Homo sapiens: one gene and its partners. The protein of the gene in region 1 interacts with the protein of each later gene in a pairwise test. Each region holds a gene or a part of one and is shown on either strand. Other genes may lie near its edges. The genes, in order: MTAP, FOLH1 and RELB.

Region 1 (3,659 bases):
GTCACAGAACAAGCACAGAAACAGTGACTCCAGGTATCTGAGTGAATCATCTCAGAGGGGAGGAAAACTCTTTCTTAATGACCTCATCCACCCTCAGGAAACAATGACAAGACCTTGCCAGGCCTCCTGGGCAGGAAGCGTCAGTCCTCAGTCCAGTTAATTCTAGACTGTGTAGGAAATGTGTTCAAGACCTGAGATGGAATTTCTGCCCAGCCAGGACTTCTTTATTACACAAGATAGAGTTCTGAAATAGGGAGTCAATCAAGGTCCTTGACAGATTTTAAAAGCTAGTGGCTCATGCCACACTTTTCCACGGACTGACCATCAAACCAAACTTCTCAAAACTAGACCTTCTGCAATGATAATAAATAAAGCTCTCTATGACATCTGCCTCAGAACCCTAAAGCTGCCCACACCTACCTACAGTGACTTGAACCACCTGGTGTCTGCAGCCATGAGTGGGGTCACCATCTGTCTGCATTTCCCTGGCCAACTCAATGCTGACTTGCAGAAGCTGGCCGCAAACATGGTCCTGTTCCCCCACCTGCACTTCATGTATGGCTTCCCCCTGCTGACCAGCTGGGACAACCAGCAGTACTGGGCCCTCATGGTGCGTGAGCCCACTTGGCAGTTCTTTGATGCCAAGAATATGATGGCTGCCTGCAACCTCTGCCATGGTTGCTACGTAATGGTAGCTGCCATGTTCAGGGGCCACATGTCCATGAAGGAGGTGGACATGCACATGCTTAATGCCCAAAATATGAACAGCAGCTACTTTGTTGGTTGGATCCCCCAAGATATAAAAACAGCTGTGTGTGACTTCCCACCCTCAGGGCTAAAGATGTCCGGCCACCTTCACTGGCAACAACACTGCTATCTAGGATCTGATCAAGGGCATCTCAGAGCAGTTCACAGGTATACTTCGGTGCAAAGCTTTCCTGTACTGGTACACGGGCGAGGGCATGGATGAGATGGAATTCACCGAGGCTGAAAGCAACATGAACGACCTGGTGTCTGAGTACCAGCAGTAGCAGGAGGCCACGGCTGAGGAGGAAGAGTTTGAGTGAGCCAAGGAGGAGGTAGGTGGCCTAGAGCCTTCTGTTACTGTGTAAAGGGTGGAAGTGGTGTGAACCCTTTATTCACGCACAATCTGTTCTATGACAGCCATGTCTTAGTGTATGTGCGCTTGCTGTTGTGTCTTGACATCACATGTTCTAAAGACACCCCAAAGAAAGCATTTTCACAGTGAAAAAAAAAATTTTTTTGTTCAAGAGCAAATCAATCCAAGGGTCTGACTTCTCTGAGACTGTGAAAGCATTTATCCAAATACCAGTTCACCTGGTCAGAACAGTTACTTCTAGCAATGTGGAAAGGGTGCATAGTAACCCCTACTCTGTCTATTTCTTCTAGTACCTGGCTACAGGAGATTTTACCAACCCTTCTTTGTCCCAGAAACCATTCACCATCACTTTGAGGCCTGGGCACACTGCCGTAAGGAACCCAGCACTCTATAATGGCATTTTCAAAATACCATCACCCCAAGCGGTTGAGACTAGCTCATGCCAGGGAGATGGGCTGCCTCTGAGTGCCTCAAGCTCACGATAAGGTAAGCGAGCCAGAGCTGGAGCTGGCACAGCCCGATCTGAGCACTGCAGTCCTTTAGCTCTGGTTGCCATAACAATTTTGGCAAGCACAGCAGACGGAGGCCCTCATTATTAGGCTGACATGGCTTTGAGGCCTGTCAGGGCCTTGCAAAATCCTGGAAGCCTAGCTGTATGAGAGGGAGCAACCAACTGTCTCAGGCTGTGAGGACTGTTAAAAACCTGCAATAGGGTCCACAGGGATAGCTGGGGTCTCCATCTCTGACAAGACACCCCCTCTGTAGGCCACCCTTGTAGGTAATGGTTATGGATGGAATTGTATCTCCCCTAAGTTCATAGGTTGAAGTTCCAACTCTCAGTACCTCAGAATGTGACTGTATTTGCCGTTTTTAAAGAGGTAATTCAGATCAAATGAGGTCACTGGGATGGGCCCTAATGCAGTATACCTCATGTTATGGTTTGAATGTGGTCATCTTCAAAACTCATGTTGAGGCTTGGTCCCCAAATATAGTGATGCTGGGAGGTAGTACCTTTAAGAGGAGTTTGAGTCATGAGCCATGGTAATAATCCACCCCAATTAAGGGATTCATGCAGTCCCAGGGGAGGGTGTTCTTGCTCTCATTGGGTTGGATTAGTTCCAGTGAGAGTGGGTTGTTATGAAGCAAAGTTTGTCTCTTTTTTGTTTCCTTTTCCTATCTCCCTCGTCTCCCTTTCATTTCTTTTAAATAAACCTCTTCTCTTTATAAATTACCCTGTCTCAGGTATTCTGTTATAGCAACAGAAAACAGACTAAGAAAACTGTTGTCCTTACAAGAGATTGGGATATAACCACATACAGAGGGAAGACCCTGTGAAGACAAATGGAGAACATTGCCATGTACAAGCCAAGCAGACTGACCTTACAAGAAATCCACCTTGATCTCACCTTGATCTTGGACTTCTAACCTCCAGCGCTGTGAGGAGATAATGCTTCTGTTGCATAAGCTACCCATTCTGTAGTGCTTTGTTATAGCAGGCCTAGCGAACTAATACAGTGACTCTATATTTTAGTCAGAGAAGCTTGGATGATGCAAGCGCTCAAAACATCCATGGTTTTTATTTGAGCAAATGCCCCTTGAGAAGTACAGATATCAGTCTAAAGGGCAGACACCCTCTTAAAGACACACTTCACCTGCTGAAATGGCCAGATATTTTTAGAGGAGGACTCTCCCTAATGCATACTTTGTTAGAGCTCTCCTTTGCCTGTGGAGCAACAGTGGGAGCCACCCACCCTCCTGAACCAGCTGCTGGATACTAGGACATTCCCCTTCTCTAGCTTTCAATACCAAAGCCCAGGCCTCAGGGATTCTGATTAGTTGGGCAAGGCGTAGTTTGTTTTTAAAGCTCCGCAGGTGGTTCTAAAGTGCCCTCAGAACTAAGCAACCTGCTCTAGGGCCTAGACCATAAATTTCTTTCTTTTTTTTTTTTTTGAGACGGAGTCTCACTCTGTCGCCCAGGCTGGAGTGCAGTGGTGCGATCTCGGCTCACTGCAAGCTCCGCCTCCCAGTTTCACACCATTCTCCTGCCTTAGTCTCCCAAGTAGCTGGGATGACAGGAGGCTGCCACCGTGCCCGGCTAATTTTTTGTATTTTTAGTAGAGACGGGGTTTCACCATGTTAGCCAGGATGGTCTCAATCTTCGGATCTTGTGATCCGCCCGCCTCAGCCTCCCAAAGTGCTGGGATTACAGGCATGAGCCACCGCGCCCGGCCCCTAGACCATAAATTTTTAAAACGTGGGCTGAGTGTGGCAAGCTGAACAATGCCCCTGTCCCAAGAGATCCTAGCTACATCCTAATTCCCAGAACCTGGGAATGTTACCTCAAATATGATTAAATCCAGGATCTTGAGATGGGGAGATTATCCTAGATTACCTGGGTGGGACCTAAATGAAATCACAAGGAGGCAAGAAGGTCAAATGAGGAAGAAAGTGATATAATGATAGAAGCAGAGGGAGAGAAAAGGGGACATGATGTGGGGCCATGGGCCAAGAAGTGCTGGTGCCTCCAGAAGCTGAAAAA
Region 2 (2,664 bases), on another chromosome or scaffold:
GAAACACAAGAGCACTCTGCAATTCCTGGATTGCATATTCCTATAACAATTTGAACAAGCCACTTGTCAACTGAACTTCCAAGTTCAATCATCTCTGAAGACTATTATATGAAATCTATAGTAATTAATTATATTTTTATTTCAAACAAATAAATTAAAGTGGTTCAGTGCTACAAAACTAACAATGATGATAGTAACCACAGCAATCATTCTTGGTATTTAATGTTTACTTGCAATTTTTCTGATGTTTAGAAATAAACTCTACACAGTTGATATTAGTATTTCACAGAGAAGGAAACTGAGGTCTGAGAGATCAAGTAACTAAATGATTTGTCTCAAGGCACACGACAAGTAACTGCTGATTTTTTAATATATCATGCTACCCCCTATATTATAGCACAATTGTAATCATTACAGTCTTGCTTGTGATCAGCCAACCCTCTATTGTGGTTTTTTTTTTGTCTTTTTTTAAAAAGTCACACTACCATGTTAGAATACTTAATATAGAGTTTGAAGAATCATCAAAAACAATTTTGTAATGTTCCATGTGACCAAGGCAGAAAATGTTTTATAGAATGGGCTATGACAGTTCATGTAATAGCCCACAGAAGAGAAGGACAAACTCCATAGTAAAGATGTAAATAAGGCCAGAAGCAGTAGCTCATGCCTGTAATCCCATATATTAGGGAGGCCAAGGTGGGAGGATTGCTTGAGGCCAGGAGTTCTAGACGAGCCTGCGCAACATAGGGACACCCTGTCGCTACAAATGAACGTACAAATATTAGCTGGGCATGGTGGCATGTGACTGTAGTCCTAGCTTCTTTGGAGGCTGCTGCAGGAAGATTGGTTGAGCCCAAAAGTCTGAGGCTGCAGTGAGCTAAAATTGCACAACTGAACTCTAGCCTGGGAGACAGAGTGGGACCCTGTCTCTTAGGAAAAAAAGGGGGGGTGGGGGATGGATAAAAATATGCTGCTACTGGTGATCTGATCCAGTCAACCTGCTTGGAAGATGCTCTTACTCCCAAGCCCGACCCTTTGATAATCCCTAGAAAGAAAGTTAGGGCCATTTCTGGCTGTCCAATGATCTATCTCATTCTGCAATATTTAGAAGATCAACCTGGGGACAGTCAATGTTTGGCAGAAAAAAATCCAACTGTCAGGATTTAGGAGGAAATAAAATATCTAAATATCAACATTAGGGAAAAGAATAAATAAATATATATTTATTATATACATTATATATAGAGAGATGTTTGGGTTCTGTGTATACATAAGTAAAAATATATTTAAAATAGAAAAGGAGCTAAAATTATACACACCAGAATATAACAATGATTTTATATTTTTCTGATAAAATTGGGGAGATTTTTATTTTTTGTCATGGCTTTCTGGATCTTCTATATTTTCTAAAATAAATTTATATTCTTTTATAATCAGAACAAAGATACTCAAAATAAAGATATGCAAAAATCATATTACATTATATGAAGAAACAATACAACTATCACTTACTACATATATTTTGAAATTTTCTATTTGCTTGCAAGAAATCAACTACAATATTTTTTCCACAGTGAAAAAAATAAAAATAATTAGAAGAAAAAGTGATATTACAGAAAGGAGTCATATTTTCTTTTCTTACCTATAAAAAGGCCTGTCTGGTAACCCTAATGGATCAATAAATGCTCTTTCCAGAAACATGAGTTGATCATTCATCATTCTTAATACTATTGGGCTGAGAAAGAAAATGAATATAATTATAACTTCATGAAAATATGTTTCTACTCAGAAAATAAAAATTTCAGAACAAAACTGAATTTAGTTATCTCCGGGGATTGGTTTCAGGACCACCCTCTACACCAAAATTTGTGCATACTCAAGTCCTGCAAGGAGGACACATGTATGTGAAAAGTCGGCCCTCCTCCTTTGTGGAATTTTTTTTTATTATTATACTTTTAAGTTCGAGGGTACATGTGCACAACGTGCAGGTTTGTTACACATGTATACATGTGCCATGTTGGTGTGCTGCACCCGTTATCTCACTCATAGGTGGGAATTGAACAATGAGAACACTTGGACACAGGGTGGGGAACATCACACACCAGGGCCTGTCGTGGGGTGGGGTGAGGGGGGAAGGATAGCATTGGGAGGTATACCTAATGTAAATGACGAGTCCTCTGTGGAATTAACAGGGTGAAAATGAACAAACTACCAAACAAATTAAATTGATCTCTCGGTATAATGATCCAGATTTAAGTCTAAAAGTTACTTAAAATTATATCGTTTCAAGTGATTTTCAGAATGGTTTAAGTACAGCGTTCTTGGAGCCTGATATGACTTTCTGGATTAACTTGCTCTGCCTCAGTGAGGAAATGTAGCTGTGTATGTGGAATCTGAAGCCACATCTGATCTCCCTTGGGTTAGCTGCCCCCAGTATAACTCTTACCACATGCTTAATCCCCCTTTCACATCTTAGTCTTCATGTTGTTAAGACAATGAGATAGGCAATTATATAAAATAGAAAATGTTTGTGGAACACATGGCTAGTAGTCCAAATGGAATGTAACAGTTTTTTTTTAAGTTTCTATAATTCTCTTACTTTATATTTTTCATTAGTTTTTCATTAGCTACATCTGAGTTTCTCAGATTCAAGCTTGTAGAGTG
Region 3 (3,273 bases), on another chromosome or scaffold:
TTTAGTAGAGATGGAGTTTCACCATGTTGGCCAGGATGGTCTCTCTCTCTTCACCTCGTGATCTACCTGCCTTGGCCTCCCAAAGTGCTGGGATTACAGGCGTAAGCCACAGTGCCAGGCCTGTTTTGTTGTTGTTGTTGTTGTTGTTTTGAGAAGGGTCTCATTCTGTTGCTCAGGCTAAAGTGCAGTGGTGCAATCTTGGCTCACTGCAACCTTCACCTCCTGGGTTCAAGTGATTTGTCTGCCTCAGCCTCCAAGTAGCTGGGACTACAGGTGTGCACCACCACACTCGGCTAATTTTTGTATTTTTAGTAGAAACAGGGTTTTACCACGTTGGCCAGGCTGGTCTCAAACTCCTGGACTGAAGCAGTCCACCTGCCTCAGCCTCCCAAAGTGCTGAGATTACAGGCATGAGCCACTTTCAGTCCCTACAGACTATGTATGTGAGACAAGAAATAACGTTCTATCCTGTTGAAGCCCCTGTTATTTTGGGTTTTGCTGTAAATGCAGTTAAATGTGATCATAGGTGGGATGCAGTGGCTCATGCCTGTAATCCCAGCACTTTGGGAGGCTGAGGCAAGCAGATCACCTGAGGTCAGGAGTTCAGGACCAGCCTGGCCAATGTGGTAAAACACCGTCTCTACTAAAAAATACAAAAATTAGCCAGGTGTGGTGGTGTATGCCTTTAGTCCCAGCTACTTGGGAGCCTGAAGCAGGAGAATCGCTTGAACTCAGGAGGCAGAAGTTGCAGTGAGCTGAGATCATGCCACTGCACTGCAGTCTGGGCGACAGAGCGAGACTCCATCTCCAAAAAAAAAAAAAAAGAAAGAAGAAATAGATCAAATTTTAAAACACCACTGAGCTAAGTATGTACTGGGCCTTTTCAAAGGAGTCCCTGAGGCTCTGAGAGGTAGAACAACTTAATGAAGTTCACATAGCAAGGAAATGGCCCAGAAGAGATCAGAACTTCCATTCTGTCTCCAAAGCCCTCATTCTTTCTACTCTATGTTGCTGGCTAAGTGCTGAGTGACTCGCCTTGTGGCTGCTCTTGGAGGGCGTGAAGAGGCCAGAAAAGCAGGGCTGCCACTTACCCTCTGCCCACCCAGGGGACAGGGGCTTATGTGTAGCTGGGACCCACCTGAGCCGTGGTTGGGCAGGAAGTGGTCCAGGATGGCCGGCTTTTTCTTCCGCCGTTTGCTCTCGATGCCATGGGGGTCTGAGGGAAGGCAGAGATGAGGACCCCTGTTCCCCGACAGCCCTTCCTCCCCAGCCTGGGGTGGGACAGGGCAGTGGGGTCAGCTGTCCCCTCCCCAGAACCTGGGGATGGGGGTGGAAAGGGGCAGAGGGCACACACCAGAGCTGTTCAGCTCCCCAAGGACGTCGGGCATCCCCCGTTTCCGCTTCTTGTCCACGCCGTAGCTGTCTGTTAAGGAGATACCAGGGACACACAAGAAGTAATTCATCAATAATAATTAATTCCTTTATTTATTTATTTATTTATTTATTTTTAGAGACAGTCTTGCTCTGTTGACCAGGCTGGAGTGCAGTGGCACGGTCTTGGCTCACTGCAACCTCTGCCTGCCAGGTTCAAGTGATTCTCCTGCCTCAGCTTCCCAAGTAGGAGGGATTACAGGTGTGCGCCACCACGCCCAGCTAATTTTTGTATTTTTTTAGTAGAGATGGGATTTCACTATATGTTGGCCAGTCTGGTCTTGAACTCCTGACCTCAAGTGATCTGCCTGCCTTGGCCTCCCGAAGTGTTGGGATTACAGGTGTGAGCTGCTGTGCCAGGCCTATTTTTTTTTTTTTTAAAGATGGAGTCTTGGCTGGGCGTGGTGGCTCACTCCTGCAATCCCAGCACTTTGGGAGGCTGAAGTGGGCGGATCACCTGAGGTCAGGAGTCCGAGACCAGCCTGACCAACACGGCGAAACCCGGTCTCTACTAAAAATACTAAAATTAGCCGGGCATGGTGGCGGGTGCCTGTAGTGAGTCTTGCTCTGTTGCCCAGGCTGGAGTGCAATGGCACAATCTTGGCTCACTGCAACCTCTGCCTCCCGGGTTCAAGCAATTCTCCTGCCTCAGCCTCCCGAGTAGCTGGGACTATAGGCGCCCACCACCACGCCCGGCTAATTTTTGTATTTTTAGTAGAGACGGGGTTTCGCCATGTTGTTCAGGCTGGTCTCGAACTCCTAACCTCAGGTGATCCGCCTGCCTCAGCCTCCCACAGTGCTGTGATTACAGGCATGAGCCACTGCGCCCGGCCTACACACTGGCCTCTTTGTTGTTCCTGGAGCACCCCAGGCACAATCCGGCCTCAGGACCTTTGCACCTGCTGTTCCAGCTGTTTAAAGCACTCTTCCTCCACTCTCACTATTTCCCTAGAAAACTTCCCTGCTTAGTCATCCTCCTGTCCTCAGCTCAGCTGTCCCCTCCTCCAAGAAGCATTCCCTGACACCTACAGCTGGGTCAGGTACCCCCTCTGGGCAATGTGAGCCCTTGAGCACTTCATTCCAGTCCTGCCCACTCTGGTCATCACTCTGTAGGGACAGGCTGTCCCCTATCCTCAGGACTATAAGCCTCATGAGGACACAGCTAGGGGCCGTGCTGGTCACTGCTGTGTCTCTAGCAATACCGAGCACAGGCCCGGGCATGTGCAGGATGCTGAGGGGAGGAAAGATTAAATACTCTCCAAATGTCACAGGACAGCTACTATTATTTCCATTTTGCACAGAAGAATGAGGCTCAGAGAGGCCAAGGTCACACAACCAGTAAGCAGCAGAGCCAGGATCTGAACACTGTCTTTGTAGCTCTGAGCCTGCATTCTAGTTCTGCCTCTTTCCCATCCCCACTGGGGTCTCCCCAAGGCCAAAGACCTAGTCTCCGAGGTGGTGGGTCACCCTGGGTTGCTGTAGTTACCATGGTCGCGAGGCAGGTACGTGAAAGGCAATGGCTCGCTGCAGACCCCATCGGTGAGCCGCTGCAGGAAGACGTTGACTGTCACGGGCTCGACAATCTCCAGGTCCTCGTAGGGCGGCGTCTTGAACACAATGGCAATCTGGCGGTGCACGTCGGCCTGGGAGAAGTCAGCCCGACCTTCCCAGGAGGCCCTGCTGAACACCACTGATATGTCCTCTGGCAGGAAACGGGGGACATCAGCTAAGCCAGGACATCTGGACCACTGTGCTCCCAACTTGCCCAGCCTCCCCTAAAATCAAGACTAATATTCCCCCTTTTTAAAATTTTTTTTTTTTGAGAGTCTTGCTCTGTTGCCC

What was found.
Region 2: the proteins of MTAP (region 1) and FOLH1 interact in a two-hybrid assay, tested with the Homo sapiens proteins (one large-scale study listed by BioGRID and IntAct).
Region 3: the proteins of MTAP (region 1) and RELB interact in a two-hybrid assay, tested with the Homo sapiens proteins (one large-scale study listed by BioGRID and IntAct).

The regions. Positions count from the first base shown.
Region 1 is NC_000009.12:21,809,050-21,812,708, reverse strand, and holds part of MTAP (S-methyl-5'-thioadenosine phosphorylase), read right to left. Parts: intron 1,221-3,659; exon of another isoform or gene 347-1,220; intron 1-346. UniProt on the Homo sapiens protein: Catalyzes the reversible phosphorylation of S-methyl-5'-thioadenosine (MTA) to adenine and 5-methylthioribose-1-phosphate. Involved in the breakdown of MTA, a major by-product of polyamine biosynthesis.
Region 2 is NC_000011.10:49,146,997-49,149,660, forward strand, and holds part of FOLH1 (glutamate carboxypeptidase 2), read right to left. Parts: intron 1,736-2,664; coding exon 1,643-1,735; intron 1-1,642. UniProt on the Homo sapiens protein: Has both folate hydrolase and N-acetylated-alpha-linked-acidic dipeptidase (NAALADase) activity. Has a preference for tri-alpha-glutamate peptides. In the intestine, required for the uptake of folate.
Region 3 is NC_000019.10:45,032,394-45,035,666, reverse strand, and holds part of RELB (transcription factor RelB), read right to left. Parts: intron 3,134-3,273; coding exon 2,918-3,133; intron 1,424-2,917; coding exon 1,355-1,423; intron 1,217-1,354; coding exon 1,139-1,216; intron 1-1,138.